Regions from separate parts of the Homo sapiens genome. Here region 1 is linked to region 2. The links come from fine-mapping of genetic effects on gene expression. A gene starts in region 2. The other region holds a variant in brackets. All regions are shown on one strand. Distances are from middle to middle.

Region 1 (9,410 bases), 34 kb after region 2:
CCTGGGGATGGAGCAGCAGAACCGCTCAGCCCTCCACGGGACTCCCACCCCCGACACCCCCAACCCCACGTCAGACACCCCCAACTCCACGCCAGGCCTCCTGGGTTCAAACCCCGGTGCAGCCGGGACCTCACTCAGTGACCCTAGGCTAGCGGCTTTGCCGCTCTGTGCCTTGGTTTCCCCATCTGTAAAACATGAACCTCAGGCTGGGCACGGTGGCTCATGCCTGTAGTCCCAGCACTTTGGGAGGCTGAGGCAGGCGGATCACCTGAGGTCAGGAGTTAGAGACCAACCTGGTAAACATGGCGAAACCCCATCTCTATTAAAAATACAAAATTAGCCGGGTGTGGTGGCTCACGCCTGTAATCCCAGCTACGCAGGAGGCTGAGGCAGGAGAATCGCTTGAACCTGGGAGGCAGAGATTGCAGTGAGCTGAGATCACACCATTGTACTCCAGCCTGAGCGACAGGGCGAGATTCTGTCTCAAAAAAAAACAAAACAAACAAACAAAAAAAACAAAACATGGACCTCAACAGACCATGCCTGCTGCATCAAACTGAGGGCCAAATGAATTGATTATAAAATGCTCACGGTAAGGGTCGCAAACTCCGGCTGCTTGAGGGCCAGATCCAGTTATCTTTGTGTGGCCAGAAAGTTTTTGTTTGTTTTTGTTTTCTTTTTCTCTTCTTTTTTTTTTTTTTTTTGAGATGGAGTCTTGCTCTGTCACCCAGGCTGGAGTGCAGTGGCGCGACCTCGGCTCACTGCAAGCTCCGTCTCCCGGGTTCACACCATTCTCCTGCCTCAGCCTCTCTGAGTAGCTGGGACTACAGGCACCCGCCACCACGCCCGGCTAATTTTTTTGTATTTTTAGTAGAGACGGGGTTTCACCGTGGTCTTGACCTCGTGATCCACCCGCCTCGGCCTCCCAAAGTGCTGGGATTACAAGCGTGAGCCACCGCGCCTGGCCAGTTTTTGTGTTTTTAATACTTTTTATGGTTATGGTTCTTATGGGTTTTTTTCTTTTTTCTTTTTTTCTTTTTTTTTAGACAGATTCTCTGTTGCCCAGGCTGGAGTGCAATGGCGCAATCTCAGCTCACTGCAACCTCTGGCTCCCAGGTTCAAGTGATTCTCCTCCCTCAGCCTCCCAAGTAGCTGGGGTAACAGGCGCGTGCCACCACGCCTAGTTAATTTTTGTATTTTTAGTACAGCTGTGGTTTCACCATGTTAGCCAGGCTGGTCTCAAATTCCTGGGCTCAAGTGATCCGTCTGCCTCGGCCTCCCAAAGTGCTGGGATTACAGGCGTGAGCCACCGTGCCTGGCCTATTTTTATTATTTATCATAACAATACTAATATGTATTATTATTTGCTACAATAATTTCAGGTAGAGAAACTTTTACGAAAGAAATAACATAGGATAAATAGGGCAAGGAGTAATTAGGTGACTACGATAGCCACGCAGTCAAGGAAGGCCTCTCAGTGGAAGTGATTTGTGAGCAGTCAAGGAAGGCCTCTCAGTGAAAGTGATTTGTGAAGGCCGGAAGGTGGCTGTCAAAATCTTAGAGGGCACACCAGGTGACAGTAACAGCTTGTGCAAAGGCCCTGGGGCAGGGCCGCACCTGGCATATTGGAGGAACAGTGAGGAGGCCCTTGTGGCTGGAGCAGAGTGAGGAGGGGGAGAGAGGAAGGAGGGGAGGGTGGGTTGTGCTGGGCCTTGTGGGTTGCAGGGAAGTCTTGGGCTTTGACCCTGAGGGACTTGGGAGCCATGGAGGGCTGTGGGCAGAGGAGGGACTGGCCCTGACTCAGGTGCTCACAGGCGCCCTCTGGTGGCTGCTGCAGGGAGGACAGGCTGTGGGGGGTGGTCTGGGGGAGCCCGGACCAGGGCAGTGGGGACTGCGTTGGTTCAGGTGAGCAACCGTGGGGCTGGACCAATGTGGCTGTCATGGAGCTGGAGAGGAGAGGACATATTTGAGAGACACTGGGGAGACAGAATCGACCTGACCTTGCTGACAGATGGTACAAAATCTGGCAGGGTCCTTGCAGGGCCAGCCACAGATTTTCTGGGGCTGGGTGCAAGCTGAAACTTCAGGCTCTTCTGAGCCTGGAACCCTCTGGGACAGCCCAGTTCGCGCACCTGCCAAACCGGCCCTGGGTCCGGGATACTGATGCTGGAGTCTTCAAGAGCCTGGGACTAGAGGTTCAAAGACACCAGCTCAGCCCCCCGCTAAGCTCTGACATCCCAAGGCTGCCCTTCCCCCTCTCTGTGTCTCAATTTTCTCATCTGTAAAATGGGTATGATCCACCAGGTGGGAGGTGGGGGCTGGAGGCTTGCCCAGCATCTCGTCTGGCTCCTGGGGGCACCAGCATGGGCCCCAACCAGCGATGGGAGAGGGGATGGGACTGCTTCTGCCTCCAGGGTTGGCGTGCAGAGGGCGGGGGTAGGGGTCGGTGCAGGCAGGACTTGATCGAGCAAGCGGCAGCAAAAAGGGAAGGAGTGGCTTGGTTGGGGCCCAGAAAGAGGAAATGGGAGCAGAGGAGAAGGCCGGAGCACGGAGAAGGGGCGGGGGTGTCACCTCCCATCTCCCCAAAGGGCTGTCTCCAACGCCTCCAACTCCACCTAGCAGGTGCCACCTGCACACTGGAGAGCCATGGGGGCAGGTCGGGGGTGGCCGCCTCGACTCTCCAGTCCTCAGTTTCTCCAGGGGTCATGTCTATTTGGCTCAAAGTCAAGAAACAGGCTTTTCTCGGCTGGGCACAGTGGCTCACGCCTATAATCTCCGCACTTTGGGAGGCTGAGGTGGCCAGATCACTTGAGGTCAGGAGTTCGAGACCAGCCTGGCCAACACGGTGAAACTCTGTCTCTACTAAATATACAAAAATTAGCGGGGCATGCTGGTGGGCGCCTGTAATCCCAGCTATTCGGGAGGCTGAGGCAGAAGAATTGCTTGAACTCGAGGCAGAGGTTGCAGTGAGCTGAGATCGTGCCACTACACTCCAGCCTGGGTGACAGAGTGAGACTCTATCTCAAAAATAAAAAAATAAAAAAAGGTACCAGGTCTGCAACTTAGTCAAAAATGGTTCAGAAAACAGTGTATATGCTTGGGCATGGTGTAGCGGCTCATGCCTATAAATCCAGTGCTTTGGGAAGCTAAGGGAGGGGGGCGGCTTGGGCCAAGGAGTTCAAGACCACCCTGGGCAACATAGTGAGACCCCATCTCTACAAAAAAAAAAAAATATATATATATATATATATATATTTAGTCAGACGTAGTGGTGCACACTGGTAGTTACAGCTACTCATGAAGCTGAGGTAGGAGGATCATTTGAGCCCAGGAGGTTGAGGCTGCAGTGAGCCATGATCACACCACTGCACTCCAGCCTGGGTGACAGAACAAGACCTTGTCTCAAAAAAAAAAGTTTCCAAAAAAAATTAAAAACTAGGGCTGGGCGCAGTGGCTCATGCCTGTAATCCCAGCACTTTGGGAAGCTGAGGCAGGCAGATCACCAGGTCAGGAGTTCGAGACCAGCCTGACCAACATGGTGAAACCCTGTCTCTACTAAAAATACAAAAACCCTGTCTCTACTAAAAATACAAAAATTAGCTGGGCATGGTGGCGCGCACCTGTAATCCCAGCTACACAGGAGGCTGAGGCAGGAGAATTGCTTGAACCTGGGAGGCGGAGGCTGCAGTGAGCCGAGATCATGCCACTGCACTCCAACCTGGGTGACAGAGCCAGACTCTGTCTCAAAAAAAATAAAAATAAAGGGCCGGGCCCGGTGGCTCACGCCTGTAATCTCAGCACTATGGGAGGCCAAGGCGGGCGGATCACGAGGTCAGGAGATCGAGACCATCCTGGCTAACACGGTGAAACCCC[G/A]TCTCTACTAAAAATACAAAAAATTAACCGGGCATGGTGGCGGGCGCCTGTAGTTCCAGCTACTTGGGAGGCTGAGGCAGGAGAATGGCGTGAACCGGGGAGGCGGAGCTTGCAATGAGCCGAGATCATGCCACTGCACTCCAGCCTGGGTGACAGAGCGAGACTCCGACTCAAAAAAAAATAAATAAAATATAAATAAATAAATAAACAAACAAACTACTCAAACGACAACATCCCCCAGGTCCACAATCTGAAATTCTCTGATGCAGAGCTGTGAGAGCTTCAGATTCCAGAATTTATTGCATGTTAGGATGGGGACATGTCAACTCACTAATATTCCTGCAGCGGAATGTAGGAATGGGAGTCAGTGCAATAAACAAACATCCTCCCACCCGTTTCTTTGAGTTTCTCATGGAGACACTATGGGGGACCATCAAGTTTTTGGAGCTTTGGCTATTTGGGGCTAGTAGCAGAGGGAATTGTGAGCTTGCTGGCCCTTGACTGGGTGTCCCTGGTGAGCTAAGAGCTGGAGTCCCACCATCTGTCCTGAGCCTCACCACGAGAGGGGGACAACTCTTTTTTTTTTTTTTTGAGAGGGAGTCTTTCTTGCTCTATCGCCCAGGCTGGAGTGCAGTGTCGCGATCTCGGCTCACTGTAAGCTCCACCTCCCGGGTTCACGCCATTCTCCTGCCTCAGCCTCCCAAGCAGCTGGGACGACAGGCGCCCACCACCATGCCCAGCTAATTTTTTTTGTTTTTTTTTAGTAGAGACGGGGTTTCACCATGTTAGCCAGGATGGTCTCGATCTCCTGACCTTGTGATCCACCCGCCTCGTCCTCCCAAAGTGCTGGGATTACAGGCGTGAGCCACTGCGCCTGGCCAAGAGAGGGACAACTCTTAGCCCTGTTTCCATGTGGGGAAACTCAGTCTCGGGGCCGTTGAGGGAATTGCTGTGGGTCGCACAATTCCTTCAATGGTCCTGGTGAGTGGCAGACTGGGATTCAAACTCAGTTCTGTTTGAGTCTAGAGCCTATGGGCTTTTATTTTTTATTATTATTATTATTTTTGAGACAGGGTCTCACTCTGTCACCCAGGCTAGAGTGCAGTGGCTTGATATTGGCTCACTGCAACCTCCACCTCATGGGTTTCAAGCGATTCTCCTGCCTCAACCTCCAGACTAGCTGTCATTACAGGTGTGCACCACCGTGTCCGGCTAATTTTTGTATTTTTAGTAGAGACAGGGTTTTGCCATTTTGGCCAGGCTGGTCTCGAACTCCTGGCCTCAAGGGATCCACTTGCCTTGGCCTCCCAAAGTACTGGGATTACAGGCATGAGCCACCTTGAGCTTATGGGTTTCTAAATTATTATACCTGGAGGTTCCTTTACCCTGCCTGAATGATTATAACAATCATAATAAAAATCACAGCTAGCATGATTTAAATCTTACCGTCTTCCCAACCCCGAGCCCAGAGACTCTACGGATCCCCAGTTAATCCTCACAGATTCTATGATTTTCCCATTTGCAGATGAGACACAGAGGACCAGAGAGGTTTAGTGACTTAATTTGGGTCACACAGCAAGTGGAACCCCAGGGGAGTAAACTTGGGGTCGTGTGAGTCCTTCACCAACAAAATGGGACACGGCCAGTCGAGCTGGGGTAGGTGTCATTAACACGTCTGTTAAAGCAATGTTTTTACAGAGTCTGGGAGGCTCGACAGCTCCTTGGGGTGTGGCATTGAGCCCAACTGCCGATGACTGGACTTTTTGAGCTCCTGTCCCCCAATTGCCTTCCAACCCTCAGATCTTCTTCTTCCTTTTTTTTACTTTTTGTTTTTATTTTTATTTTTTGATATAGAGTCTGGCTCTGTCACACAGACTGGAGTGCAATGGTGTGATCTCAGCACACCGCAACCTCCTCCTCCCAGGTTCAAGCGATTCTCCTGCCTCAGCCTCCCAGGCAGCTGGGATTAGAGGCGTGCACCACCACACCCGGCTAATTTTTGTGTTTTTAGTAGAGACGAGGTTTCACCATGTTGGCCAGACTGGTCTTGAACTCCTGGCCTCAAGTGATCCACCCCTCCTCAGCCTCCCAAAGTGCTGGGATGACAGGCCTGAGCCACCGCGCCCAGCCAGGACTGGACCTTTTGGGCTCCTGTCCCCCAGTTGTCTTCCAACTCTCAGATCTTAGTTTGCCCCAAAGTGCAGAGAACAAACATAAGTCTTGGCAAGCAACAGTTGGCTTTATTTTGTGATGCACTGATTTTTTTTTCCTCTTCTGCTTTGTTATAGGAAATAAATGATAATCCTGTTGCCACCCGCGACACAGATTTGATGACTCAGGGATGGGTCATCACCCGAAGCCTGAAGAGCTGCGTGAGAACCCCCTCTTTGCAATCCATTGCTGTCCTGAAGCCACAAAGGATTCTGGGACCTCTCCATTGCCCCCCGACCCCCAGACATCCCCCAGCTCCTGGATAGAAATGGTGGGAGTGATCTGTTTTAGGATACCCCCAAAGGCCATGCGGCCCAGACGGGAAGTTCCTGCTTCCTCCTGGGCACGGAGGAGGACAGGAGGAAGTGGAACCGGCAGATGCCAGGAAGGAACTGGGTTAACCGTGCCAAGCCCCAGTCATCACAAGGCAACTGGAGCCAGCTATGTGCACAGAGTCCAGCACCAGGCCCTCACAGGAAACGCAGCTGCTGGGGAAGTGGGGAGCCAGGCCAGGCAGCCGCAGGGGCAGGAGGCTCGGCCTCTCAGTCCCGCTCTGGCTCAAACTAGCTGCTGACCCCCAATCAATCCTGCTGCCTCCTTGGGCCTCATTTTCCCCATCTGGCACTGGGGTTCTGTGGTGTTTCTGTCCCCCAAGGCAGGCGAACAGGGCAGTCAGGAGCATGGACTTTGGAACCAGAATTCTAGGTGCGAGTCTCAGCTGTGTGACCTTGGGCAAGTCGCTCTGCCTCTCTGAGCCTCAGTTTATCCTTTGGGGGAAACTAGGAGTGCCTGCCTCAAAGTGCTAAGAACAGGCCGGGCACAATGGCTCACATCTCTAATCTCGTCACTTTGGGGAGGCCAAGGCAGATGGATCACCTGAGGTCAGGAGTTCGAGACCAGCCTGGCTAACATGGTGAAACCCCGTCTCTACTAAAAATACAAAAATTAGCTGGGCATGATGGTGCACACTTGTAGTCCCAGCTACTCAGGAAGCTGAGGCAAGAGGATTGCTTGAACCCAGGAGGCAAAGGTTGCCGTGAGCCGAGATCGCACCACTGCACTCCAACCGGGGTGATAGAGTAAGACTCTGTCTCAAAAATAAAAATAAAAAATAAAATGTTTAAAGTGCTAAGGACATAACTGGTCCCTTTCACAGCTTTATTTTCCTGTTTTTGTTGTTGTTCACTTTCTTTTCTTTTCTTTTTTTGTTTTTGTTTAGAGACTGGGTCTCGCAATGTTGTCCAGGCTGGTCTTGAACTCCTGGGCTCAAGCAATCCTCCTGCCTTAGCCTCCCGAGTAACTGGGACTACAGGTATGTGCCACCATACCCGGCTCACGGCTTCATTCTGACTCTCCCCCTTCCCCAATATGAGGGTTGCTTCATGTCAGGGACAGACCCACCCCCACCCTGGTCCTTTTTGCCATCTTCCTCAAAAGGATCAGCCACCTCCAGGTAAAAAAAAAACAGCTTTTGGATTCAATTCCTGTTTCCAAGAAGGGACAGAGGTCTGGAGGTTGCCCTCAGACCTGTCTCCAGGGATGAGGTGGTTTAAACCACAGTCCACAGTGCTACATCAGTGCCTGGGGACATGGATGTCATCCCCTGCCCTCCATCAGTAGAAGGGGCTTCCTGCTTTGAGGCTGGCTGAGTAGTGCCCAGAGTGGTATGTGGAAGGGACTTTCCCAGCTCCAGGAAGATATGATACAGTGTCTGGGGGAAGTTCTCCCCAAAAATGATTCATTCATTCATTCATTCATTCATTCAGCATTTCTTGAGCATCTACTATATGGCAGGCTCATTGTACACCTGTGCTAGATGCTGGAGACACAGGGATGAAGAAGACAGATGTGGTCCCTACCCTTTTGTTGCTTGCTGTATAGCTGGAGAGATAAACAATAAACAAGTGAACAAATAGTGAGGGCCAGGAAGAAAAATCAAACAGAGTAAGGGGAAGGAGAAGATAGGACTGTCTTTATAGCTAGGGTAGTCAGGGAAGACTTCTCTGAGGAGGCGACACTTGGGTTGAGACCTACATGGAGTGAAAGGGCCAGCCAGGCAAAGGTCAGGGATAAATGACCTTGAGGTATTCGAGGAAAGAGCACTAAAAGTGATAAACCCCTAGCTTGATAGATCAAGAAAAAAATGAGCAAAGGCAGAAATGATCGATACCAAGAGCAAAAGAGAGGACATCACTGCAGATCCTACAGACAGTAGCAGGAGAACAAGGGAACGTTATAAATGTTATGCCAATAAATTTGATAACACAGGCAAAATGGACAAATTATTTGAAAGACACAAATGATCAAAACCCACACAAGAAGAAGTAGATAGCCTAAGTAGCCCTATTTATTTAAAATAATAAGACATATCGATATGATACGTCATAATGTGACATAATATGACACATTAATATGTCAAATATAGATAGATAGATAGATAGATAGATAGATAGATAGATAGATTTTTTTTTTTTGAGATGGAGTTTCACTCTTATTGCCTAGGCTGGAGTTCAGTGGTGTGATCTTGGCTCACTGCAACCTCTGCCTCCAAGTTAGAGCAATTCTCCTGCCTCACCCTCCCAAGTAGCTGGGACTACAGGTGCGCACCACCACGCCTGGCTAATTTTTGTATTTTTAGTAGAGATGGGGTTTCACCACATTAGCCAGGATGGTCTCCATCTCCTGACCTCGTGATCCACCCTCCTCGGCCCCCCAAAGTGCTGTGATTGCAGGCGTGAGCCACCGCACCCAGCCCTGATTTTTTATATTTTTAGTAGAGACGGGGTTTCATCGTGTTAGCCAGGATGTTCTCAACCTCCTGACCTCATGATCTGCCCACCTCGGCCTCCCAAAGTGCTGGGATTACAGGCATGAGCCACTGCACCCGGCATTTTTTTTTTTTTTTTTTTGAGACAGAGTCAGCTTTGCTCTGTCACCCAGGCTGGAGTGCAGTGGCATGATCATAGCTCACTGCAGCCTCAACCTCCCAGGCTCAAGTGATCCTCTCACCTCAGCCTCCCAAGTAGTTGGAACTACAGTTGCGCACCACCATGCCTGGCTAATTATTTTATTTATTTATTTTTTTTAGAGACTGGGTCTTGCTAAGTTGCCCAGGCTGGTCTGAAACTCCTAAGCTCAAGCAATCCTCCCACCTAGGCCTCCCAAAGTGCTAAGATTACAGGAATGAACCACTATGCCCTGCTGAGATATTCTTTTATCTCGTTCAGTAAGAGGGATCAAGGCTAGAGTTGAAAGGGCCCTTGACTGGGTGCAGTGGCTCACGCCTGTAATCCCCACACTTTGGGAGGCCAAGGTGGTAGGATCAC
Region 2 (9,292 bases):
TCAGCCTCCAGAGTAGCTGGGACTACAGGCACCCGCCACCACGCCTGGCTAATTCTTTGTATTTTTAGTAAAGATGGGGCTTCACCGTGTTAGCCAGGATGGTCTCTATCTCCTGACCTCGTGATCCGCCCACCTCGGCCTCCCAAAGTGCTGGGATTACAGGCGTGAGCCACGGCGCCCGGCCCCTCATCTCTTAAAATAAAAAAGGTTGAAGGAGTTGGGGGAGTTTGGATACAGACCCAGGGAGGGCGCCTTGTGGAGATGGAGGCAGAGATGCGGCTGACGCTTCTCCAAGCCAAGGAACATCAAGGACGCCGGCCACCAGCAGGAACTGGGAGAGGCCTGGGCAGATCCCCGTCAGCCTCAGGAGGACCCAGCCCTACTCACACCTTCATCTCAGACTTCTGGCTTCCAGAATTATGGCAGCATAAATGTCTGTTTTCAAGCCTCTCCATCTGTGAGACTGTCATGGCTGCCCTAGCAAATCAATACACTGAGAGACTAAATTTTTAACTTTCATTTAATTTCTTTTTTGTTGTTGTTTTTGTTTTGTTTTTTGAGACGGAGTCTCACTCTATCGCCCAGACTGGAGTGCAGTGGAGCAATCCCAGCTCACTGCAACCTCCACCCTCCGAGTTCAAGCGATTCTCCTGCCTCAGCCTCCCGAGTAGCTGGGATTACAGGCGCCTGCCACCGCACCCAGCTTATTTTTTGTATTTTTAGTAGAGACAGGGTTTCACCATCTTAGCCAGGCTGGTCTTGAACTCCTGACCTCATGATCCACCCACCTCGGCCCCCCAAAGTGCTGCGATTACAGGCATGAACCAATGCACCTGGCCTAACTTTCATTTAATTTCAATGAATTTTCTTTTTTTTTTTTTTTTAATTTTTTTTTAGAGACAGGGTCTCACTCTGTCACCCAGGCTGGCACGATCACCGCTCCCTGCAGCCTCGACCTCCCGGGCTCAAGTGATCCTCCCACCTCAGCCTCTCGAGTAGCTGGAACCACAGGCATGCAACAACATGCTCGGGCTAATTTTTTTAATTTTGGAGGATTTTTTTGTAGAGATGTGGTTTCGCTATGTTGCCCAGGCTGGTCTGGAACTCCTGCACTCAAGCAATCCTCCTGCCTCGGCCTCCCAAAGTGCTGGGATTACAGGCATGAGCCACCACACCCAGCAATTTCCATGAATTTTCAATAGCCGTGTGTGCCTCACAGCTGCTGTGTTGGTGGGTAAATGGCCCCCACACACCGCATTCCCCATCGTACAGTGGAGAAATAATGACTTAAAGCAGAACTTTCTGAGCCCAGGCGGCGGGTGGTGTGGATTCTGACTCTGCTCAGACACTGGACTGGACGGGACTGGCTTGGTCCTGGGAGAAGGTGGGCGAGAGCTGTCTATGAGCTGCAGGTGCTGGAGGCTTCCGGATTTACATCTGCACTGAAACTGTGGCCACCCGCCCCATGGGGCTACCGAAATATAAACAGATTCAAATTAAACACAACCTACACTTCGAAATTCAGTTATCTGCTTGCACCGTAGCCCCGTGGGGCTGGCGTCTCCCATACTGAATGGTGTGGAGCTGAAACGTCTCCACTGGAGTTTCACGGGGCAGGCAGTTGTCAGCCCCTGTGGCTGGCGGGGAGCGTGTACAATCAACCCTGTGCTTCGGCTTCAGTGATTAAACTGTTTTACCCACCGGGAAAGCCGAGGCCGTTCATGCTGAAGGGGATGTGAGGGAAGATTCCCCCAGCCCAGGAAGCCAAGGTGGTGCCTCTGCCAGCCCCAGAGAGTGGGTCCCCAAAAGATGCAGAGGCCAGAGATGGGGCATGGGCCCTGCCATTTCTAAAGGGGAAGTGAACAAGAAGAGGCGGCATTAACTGTCATTGTCACCCCCACTTCCCGCAACGCCCAGAGGTTGTCCACACACACACACACACACACACACACACACACACACTCCACCCTCACAGGGCACTGGCCCGTGGCCCTCTCTAGCAAAGACACACCCGGCTGCCCCTAGATCCACAGCCCCCCTGAGCCACGGCCCCCACGCATGCACGCACCAGGGAATAAGAGGCCGCAACATCACGTACCATGATCGAACTTCAATGTTGCCAGGGCATGCATCCCACAGTCCACCCCTTGCAGCCTGGGAGCCCTACTGAGGCCCAGAGAGGGGCCGGGACTTCCCCAGAATCACACAGAAGCGGGGTTGTGGGGAACCCACTCGCCCCCACACCAGGGTGCTCTCTGCTCCTACGGGGAGGTGGGGTGGTTGCCTCCTTGTCCAGGGTGACCATGGGAAGCCCATTTGGCGTCAGAAGCCCCGAGAGGCCACCGGGAAGACCATGGGGGCCTGTCCCGTTCCCTGCTCCCCATACAGGCGAGGCTGCGTGCACACAGCTTCCTGTACCCCAGGAGGGCCTGCCTGGCACGCACCCGGTGGCTGCACCATCCACACGCAAGACTGCAACTTCAGATGCTCCGCACGCTGGAGATGCTGGACAGGGGCTCCCGCATCCGAAAGCTGAGCGAGCGGGAGCCGCGAAAGCTGTCCCTTGGCCTCAGAGAGCTGTCGGTGGTGGAAGCTCCGGAGTGAGCCTCGACGGCCCGGGCCAGGCAGTCCCCGGGCCCTCGCATGCCCAGCCGGAGACACCCGCAGCAGAGGAAGCTGAGCACGGCTCTGCACACCTCCCTGCTGCGGAAGGAGTAGATGATGGGGTTGACCGCCGAGTTGAGGACGGCCAGGGCCAGGATCCAGTCCATGCCCCGCAGGTACTCCTGGGCCCAGAGGTTGGAGCCAAAGACGTCGGCCAGCAGCAGCCCGAAGAGTGGGCCCCAGCACACCAGGAAGGCCAGCAGGATCATCAGCACCGTCTTCAGCAGGCGGCGGGCCTTGCGGCGGGCCGCTGGGCGTGGGGCCTTCTGCCCGCTGGCCTGCACCAGGCGGAAGATGGCCCCATAGAGGCCCATGATGGTGGCCAGGACGCCGGCGAAGATCACCAGGCAGAAGAGGATGTAGCGCTTGGAGTAGAGGGGCAGAAGGCTGGAGCAGCGGTCAAAGGCGCACAGGCAGTTCCAGCCCAGCAAAGGCAGCATCCCCAGCAGCGCGGCCAGCAGCCAGCAGAGGCCGATGAAGCCGTAGACGCGGCTGGTCTTGGTGGCCCCGCTCTCGGCCACCGGCCGCACCATGGTGGCAAAGCGCTCCCCTGCAGTGAAGAGCAGGCTGAAGGTGGAGGCGGCCAGGGCGGTGAAGAGCAGGCCCTCCCGTAGGAACCACTGGGCGGGCGCCAGACGGAAGGTGCGGGCCCCCGACAGCAGCACGTTGGCCAGGTAGGCCGCGCCCGTGAGCAGGTCACTCAGCGTGATGTTCACCAGGCAATAGTAGACCCAGCGTCGCGACCGCATGTGGCTGGTGATGGCCGCCAGCACCAGCAAGTTCTCCAGCACCACCAGGCAGCTGGCGGCCACCGACAGCCCCCGCAGGGCCCCCAGGCCGCCATCCTCCGGCCCCCCGCGCCCGGCCAGCCGGCCCGAGTGGTTGTAGTGCAGAACAATGAGCCGGCTGTGCCCGCCGGCCGCCAGCTGTTGGCAGGACTCGGGGGCCACCGGGGTCCCCGTGGCGTTCATGGCCTCCCCCGGGGGCTGACTGAGGCCCGACGCAGGGTGGAGCCACCCGCCTTGCTGGTCTTGGTTTCCTGTTATTTGAAATTTCCTGTTATGTTCAAGGTGCCCTCCAGGGTGGAGGTAAGGCCGAGGACAGGGAGGGGCACCCCAACGGTCGGCCCCCACCCGGGCTCCTGGAGCCAACGCGCTGGGGCTGCCCTGGCTGTGAGGACCCCCACCCCTGCCCTGGCTGCCTTCTTCCTGTCCTCGAAAGCCGGAGACCCGCAGGGAGCCCCGGAGCCGTCAGTCACGGAGGGGAAATGAGTCCCCACTCGGGATGGGCCACCCCTTTCCAGCCGGACGACTCCTCCCCACCAGCCCTGATCACCCCCGAAGCACCCGTCGGCTCCACTGAGGTCTCCCCACATGCTCCACCGGCGCTCAGCACACAGCAGGTGCCTAATAAATGTCAAGTGCCTGCATGCCCTTGAGCACTGACTCATCCGACTTGATCCCCGAAACAGGGCCTGATGCGTTACAGAAGAGGAAACTGAGGCCCAGAGAGCCCGGTGCGTTGCAGAAGGGGAAACTGAGGCCCAGAGAGCCCGATGCGTTGCAGAAGGGGAAACTGAGGCCCAGAGAGCCCGATGCGTTGCAGAAGGGGAAACTGAGGCCCAGAGAGCCCGAGGCGTTGCAGAAGGGGAAACTGAGGCCCAGAGAGCCCGAGGCGTTGCAGAAGGGGAAACTGAGGCCCAGAGAGCCCGATGCGTTGCAGAAGGGGAAACTGAGGCCCAGAGAGCCCGATGCGTTGCAGAAGGGGAAACTGAGGCCCAGAGAGCCCGATGCGTTGCAGAAGGGGAAACTGAGGCCCAGAGAGCCCGAGGCGTTGCAGAAGGGGAAACTGAGGCCCAGAGAGCCCGAGGCGTTGCAGAAGGGGAAACTGAGGCCCAGAGAGCCCGATGCGTTGCAGAAGGGGAAACTGAGGCCCAGAGAGCCCGAGGCGTTGCAGAAGGGGAAACTGAGGCCCAGAGAGCCCGATGCGTTGCAGAAGGGGAAACTGAGGCCCAGAGAGCCCGATGCGTTGCAGAAGGGGAAACTGAGGCCCAGAGAGCCCGATGCGTTGCAGAAGGGGAAACTGAGGCCCAGAGAGCCTGATGCGTTACAGAAGGGAAAACTGAGGCCCACAAAGGCGGCCTGAGGCCAACTTTCTGCCCATGGGAGGACACACAGGTCCAGGGAGAGAGACCCCCAGGGACAAGCTGGTAGGGTCTCGGGGCCAGGCGCCCATTTTGGGATTCATGGTTGCCTCTCCTGCCCCTGAGCTCACCCTGCTGGGAGCAGAGCTGCTGGCCCCCTGGGGCAGCCCCCCACTGGGATTGAGGTGCATAGGAAAAGTAGGGACTTGCTCACCCCATCCCCATGGCCCTGCTGACAACGGCTCACGGTGACTCAGCCTGAGGTGAGGTGGCTGTGGGTCTAAGTGGGAGACACACCCTGCTCTGGCGTCTGAGGAGGGAGGCAGGCTCTGCCCTGGCGTCTGAGGGGGAAGCTTGGACCTGCCTGGGGTCTGAGGGGGGAGGGTTGGCCTTGCCCTAGGTTCTGAGAGGGGAGGCATGACCTTACCCTGGGGTCTGAGCGGAGAGGCTCAGCCTTGTCCTGGGGTCTGAGGAGGGATGCGAGGCCCTGTGCTGTGGTCTGAGAGGGGAGACACACCCTGCCCTGGGTCTGAGGAGGGAGGTATGCCCTGCCCTGAGGTTTGAGCGGGGAGGCTTGAACCTGCCTGGGGTCTAGGGGTGAGGGTTGGCCTTGCCTTGGGGTCTGAGTGGGGAGGCATGGCCCTGTCCTGAGTCTGAGGGGGGAGGCGAGGCCCTGCCTTGGGGTCTGAGGGGAGAGGTGAGGCCCTGTCCTGGGGTCCAAGGGAGGAGGCGAGGCCCTACCCTGAGGTCTGAGTGGGGATGCTCAGCCTTGCCCTGGGGTCTGAGGAGGGAGGCTCAGCCTTGCCCTGGGGTCTGGGGCATGTAGGGGCTTGGACATCATCTGTCACGGATGGAGTGTGAGGTCTCTGCTCTCCAGCTCCCCCAGTGTCTGTGACCCCCCACTCGTCCCCATCCAGAAGGCCTTGGGGTGTGGGGTGATTTGGGAAATAATGCAGGCCCCAGAAGTGTGAGTAGGACCCAGGATAAGTCCCTGCTGGGAGCCTCCTCCCGCCTGCAATCACCCCCAGGCCAGGCCCACTTACCACCAAGGAGGGTCCTGAGGGGCCCCACCTGCCCTCTGTCCCCCCAGGAGCCTGTGGTCTTCAGCCTTCCTGAGACAATGGTGTCCTTGGCCTCAGGGTGGGGGCAGCTACACTAATTCTACCAGTAAGGTGTCCTGGAAGGGTCACAAGTGTACTGCGAGGACACAGGTGTCCCATGAGGGGCACAGATGTCCCGTGAGGGCTCAGGTGTTGAAGGCCGAAAGAATGAGGGTTGTGATCAACTCAGTATACCACTGGAGGCTACGTGAGTAAACAGCAAACTGTTCTCATGAAAGCAGGCTGTTGGCAAACTGACAAACTGCGTCTGCCGCCCAGAAGGAATGCTGAGGGCAGTCACGCCCCAGGCACAAGTGTTTCTTGCAAGTAGGCAAATCTGAAACCTGTTAGCAATAACGTGAACGTGTGAACAATCAAGCAGCTGGCCAATCGTTTCCTCCCCCTGCTTTCTACCCAATAAGTACGAAGGGCTGTAGAAGCTTGGGGGGCTGCCTTTGCTCACTAGAAGCAGGGAGCTCTCTTTTTCTTCCCCTGGTCCCTTCCTTTAAAACAGTTTCTTCTGTCTTAAGTTTTCATTTCTACATTCGTCCCTTCGTTCAGTCTTGTAATGATGGTCTCAAGTAGTAACAATAGTAACTGTCGTAGTGACAGTCTCAGGTAGTAATCATGGCAACCACACACAGGCGTCCCATGAAGGGTACAGGCATCCCATGAGGGCACAGGTGTCCCATGAGAATGCAGGCGTCCCATGAGGGGCACAGGCATCCCATGAGAACACAGGCATCCCATGAGGGGCACAGGCGTCCCATGAGGGTACAGGCATCCCATGAGGGCACAGGTGTCCCATGAGAATGCAGGCGTCCCATGAGGGCACAGGCATCCCATGAGGGGCACAGGCATCCCATGAGAGCACAGATGTCCCATGAGGGGTACAGGCGTCCCATGAGGGTACAGGCATCCCATGAGAACACAGGCGTCCCATGAGGGGTACAGGCATCCCATGAGGGCACAGGCATCCCATGAGAACACAGGTGTCCCATGAGAACACAGGTGTCCCATGAGGGCACAGGCGTCCCATGAGAATGCAGGCGTCCCATGAGAACGCAGGCGTCCCATGAGGGCACAGGCGTCCCATGAGGGCACAGGTGTCCCATGAGGGGCACAGGCGTCCCATGAGAACACAGGCGTCCCATGAGGGGCACAGGCGTCCCATGAGAACACAGGCGTCCCATGAGGGCACAGGCGTCCCGTGAGAACACAGGTGTCCCATGAGGGGCACAGGCGTCCCATGAGAACACAGGCGTCCCATGAGGGCACAGGCGTCCCATGAGAACACAGGTGTCCCATGAGGGGCACAGGCGTCCCATGAGAACACAGGCGTCCCATGAGGGCACAGGCGTCCCATGAGAACACAGGTGTCCCATGAGGGGCACAGGCGTCCCATGAGAACACAGGCGTCCCATGAGGGCACAGGCGTCCCATGAGGGGCACAGGCGTCCCATGAGAACACAGGCGTCCCATGAGGGCACAGGCGTCCCATGAGGGCACAGGTGTCCCATGAGGGGCACAGGCGTCCCATGAGAACACAGGCGTCCCATGAGGGGCACAGGCGTCCCATGAGAACACAGGCGTCCCATGAGGGCACAGGCGTCCCATGAGAACACAGGCGTCCCATGAGGGGCACAGGCGTCCCATGAGAACACAGGCGTCCCATGAGAACACAGGCGTCCCATGAGGGCACAGGCGTCCCATGAGGGCACAGGCGTCCCATGAGAACACAGGCGTCCCATGAGGGCACAGGCGTCCCATGAGGGCACAGGCGTCCCATGAGAACACAGGCGTCCCATGAGGGCACAGGCGTCCCATGAGGGCACAGGCGTCCCATGAGGGCACAGGCGTCCCATGAGAACACAGGCGTCCCATGAGGGGCACAGGCGTCCCATGAGAACACAGGCGTCCCATGAGGGCACAGGCGTCCCATGAGGGGCACAGGCGTCCCATGAGAACACAGGCGTCCCATGAGGGCACAGGCGTCCCATGAGGGCACAGGCGTCCCATGAGAACACAGGCGTCCCATGAGGGCACAGGCGTCCCATGAGAACACAGGCGTCCCATGAGGGCACAGGTGTCCCATGAGAACACAGGCGTCCCATGAGAACACAGGTGTCCCATGAGGGCACAGGTGTCCCATGAGAATTCAGGCGTCCCATGCGGGGCACGGGCATCCCATGAGAACACAGGCATCCCATGAGGGGCACAGGCGTCCCATGAGGGTACAGGCATCCCATGAGAACACAGGCGTCCCATGAGGGCACAGGCATCCCATGAGGGGCACAGGCATCCCATGAGGGCACAGATGTCCCATGAGGGGTACAGGCGTCCCATGAGGGTACAGGCATCCCATGAGAACACAGGCGTCCCATGAGGGGTACAGGCATCCCATGAGGGCACAGGCATCCCATGAGAACACAGGTGTCCCATGAGAACACAGGTGTCCCATGAGGGCACAGGCGTCCCATGAGAATGCAGGCGTCCCATGAGAACACAGGTGTCCCATGAGGGCACAGGCGTCCCATGAGGGCACAGGCGTCCCATGAGAACACAGGTGTCCCATGAGAGGCACAGGCGTCCCATGAGAACACAGGCGTCCCATGAGGGCACAGGCGTCCCATGAGAACACAGGTGTCCCATGAGGGGCACAGGCGTCCCATGAGAACACAGGCGTCCCATGAGGGCACAGGCGTCCCATGAGAACACAGGCGTCCCATGAGGGGCACAGGCGTCCCATGAGAACACAGGCGTCCCATGAGGGCACAGGAGTCCCATGAGAACACAGGCGTCCCATGAGGGGCACAGGCGTCCCATGAGAACACAGGCGTCCCATGAGGGCACAGGCGTCCCATGAGGGCACAGGCGTCCCATGAGGGGCACAGGCGTCCCATGAGAACACAGGCGTCCCATGAGGGCACAGGCGTCCCATGAGGGCACAGGCGTCCCATGAGGGGCACAGGCGTCCCATGAGAACACAGGCGTCCCATGAGGGCACAGGCATCCCATGAGGGCACAGGCATCCCATGAGGGCACAGGCGTCCCATGAGAACACAGGCGTCCCATGAGGGCACAGGCGTCCCATGAGAACACAGGCGTCCCATGAGAACACAGGCATCCCATGAGGTCACAGGCGTCCCATGAGGGCACAGGCATCCCATGAGGGCACAGGCGTCCCATGAGAACACAGGCGTCCCATGAGGGCACAGGTGTCCCATGAGAACACAGGTGTCCCATGAGGGCACAGGCATCCCATGAGGGGCACAGGCATCCCATGAGAACACAGGCATCCCATGAGGGGCACAGGCGTCCCATGAGAACACAGGCATCCCATGAGGGGCACAGGCATCCCATGAGAACACAGGCGTCCCATGAG

The links.
Region 1: its variant is fine-mapped to the expression of S1PR4 in whole blood (INTERVAL, PIP above 0.99).

The regions. Positions count from the first base shown.
Region 1 is chr19:3,139,182-3,148,591 of GRCh38, reverse strand. GNA15 (G protein subunit alpha 15) reads right to left here. Exons shown (of 7, transcript NM_002068.4): 2 at 1. GNA15-DT (GNA15 divergent transcript) reads left to right here. Exons shown (of 4, transcript NR_110670.1): 3 at 5,399-5,529; 4 at 6,162-7,016. Among named protein-coding and RNA genes, the nearest start is that of GNA15, 7.9 kb to the right of the region's middle. RefSeq lists an enhancer at 6,546-7,046. The variant G/A (reference allele first, on the strand shown) is at 3,874.
Region 2 is chr19:3,173,136-3,182,427 of GRCh38, reverse strand. It overlaps S1PR4 (sphingosine-1-phosphate receptor 4), which reads right to left and starts at 3,659. Exons shown (of 1, transcript NM_003775.4): 1 at 2,096-3,659. The coding sequence starts at 3,635. The coding sequence ends at 2,481. RefSeq lists enhancers at 1,412-1,461, 2,072-2,301, 2,342-2,521, 2,562-3,211, 4,795-5,677 and a silencer at 3,442-3,991.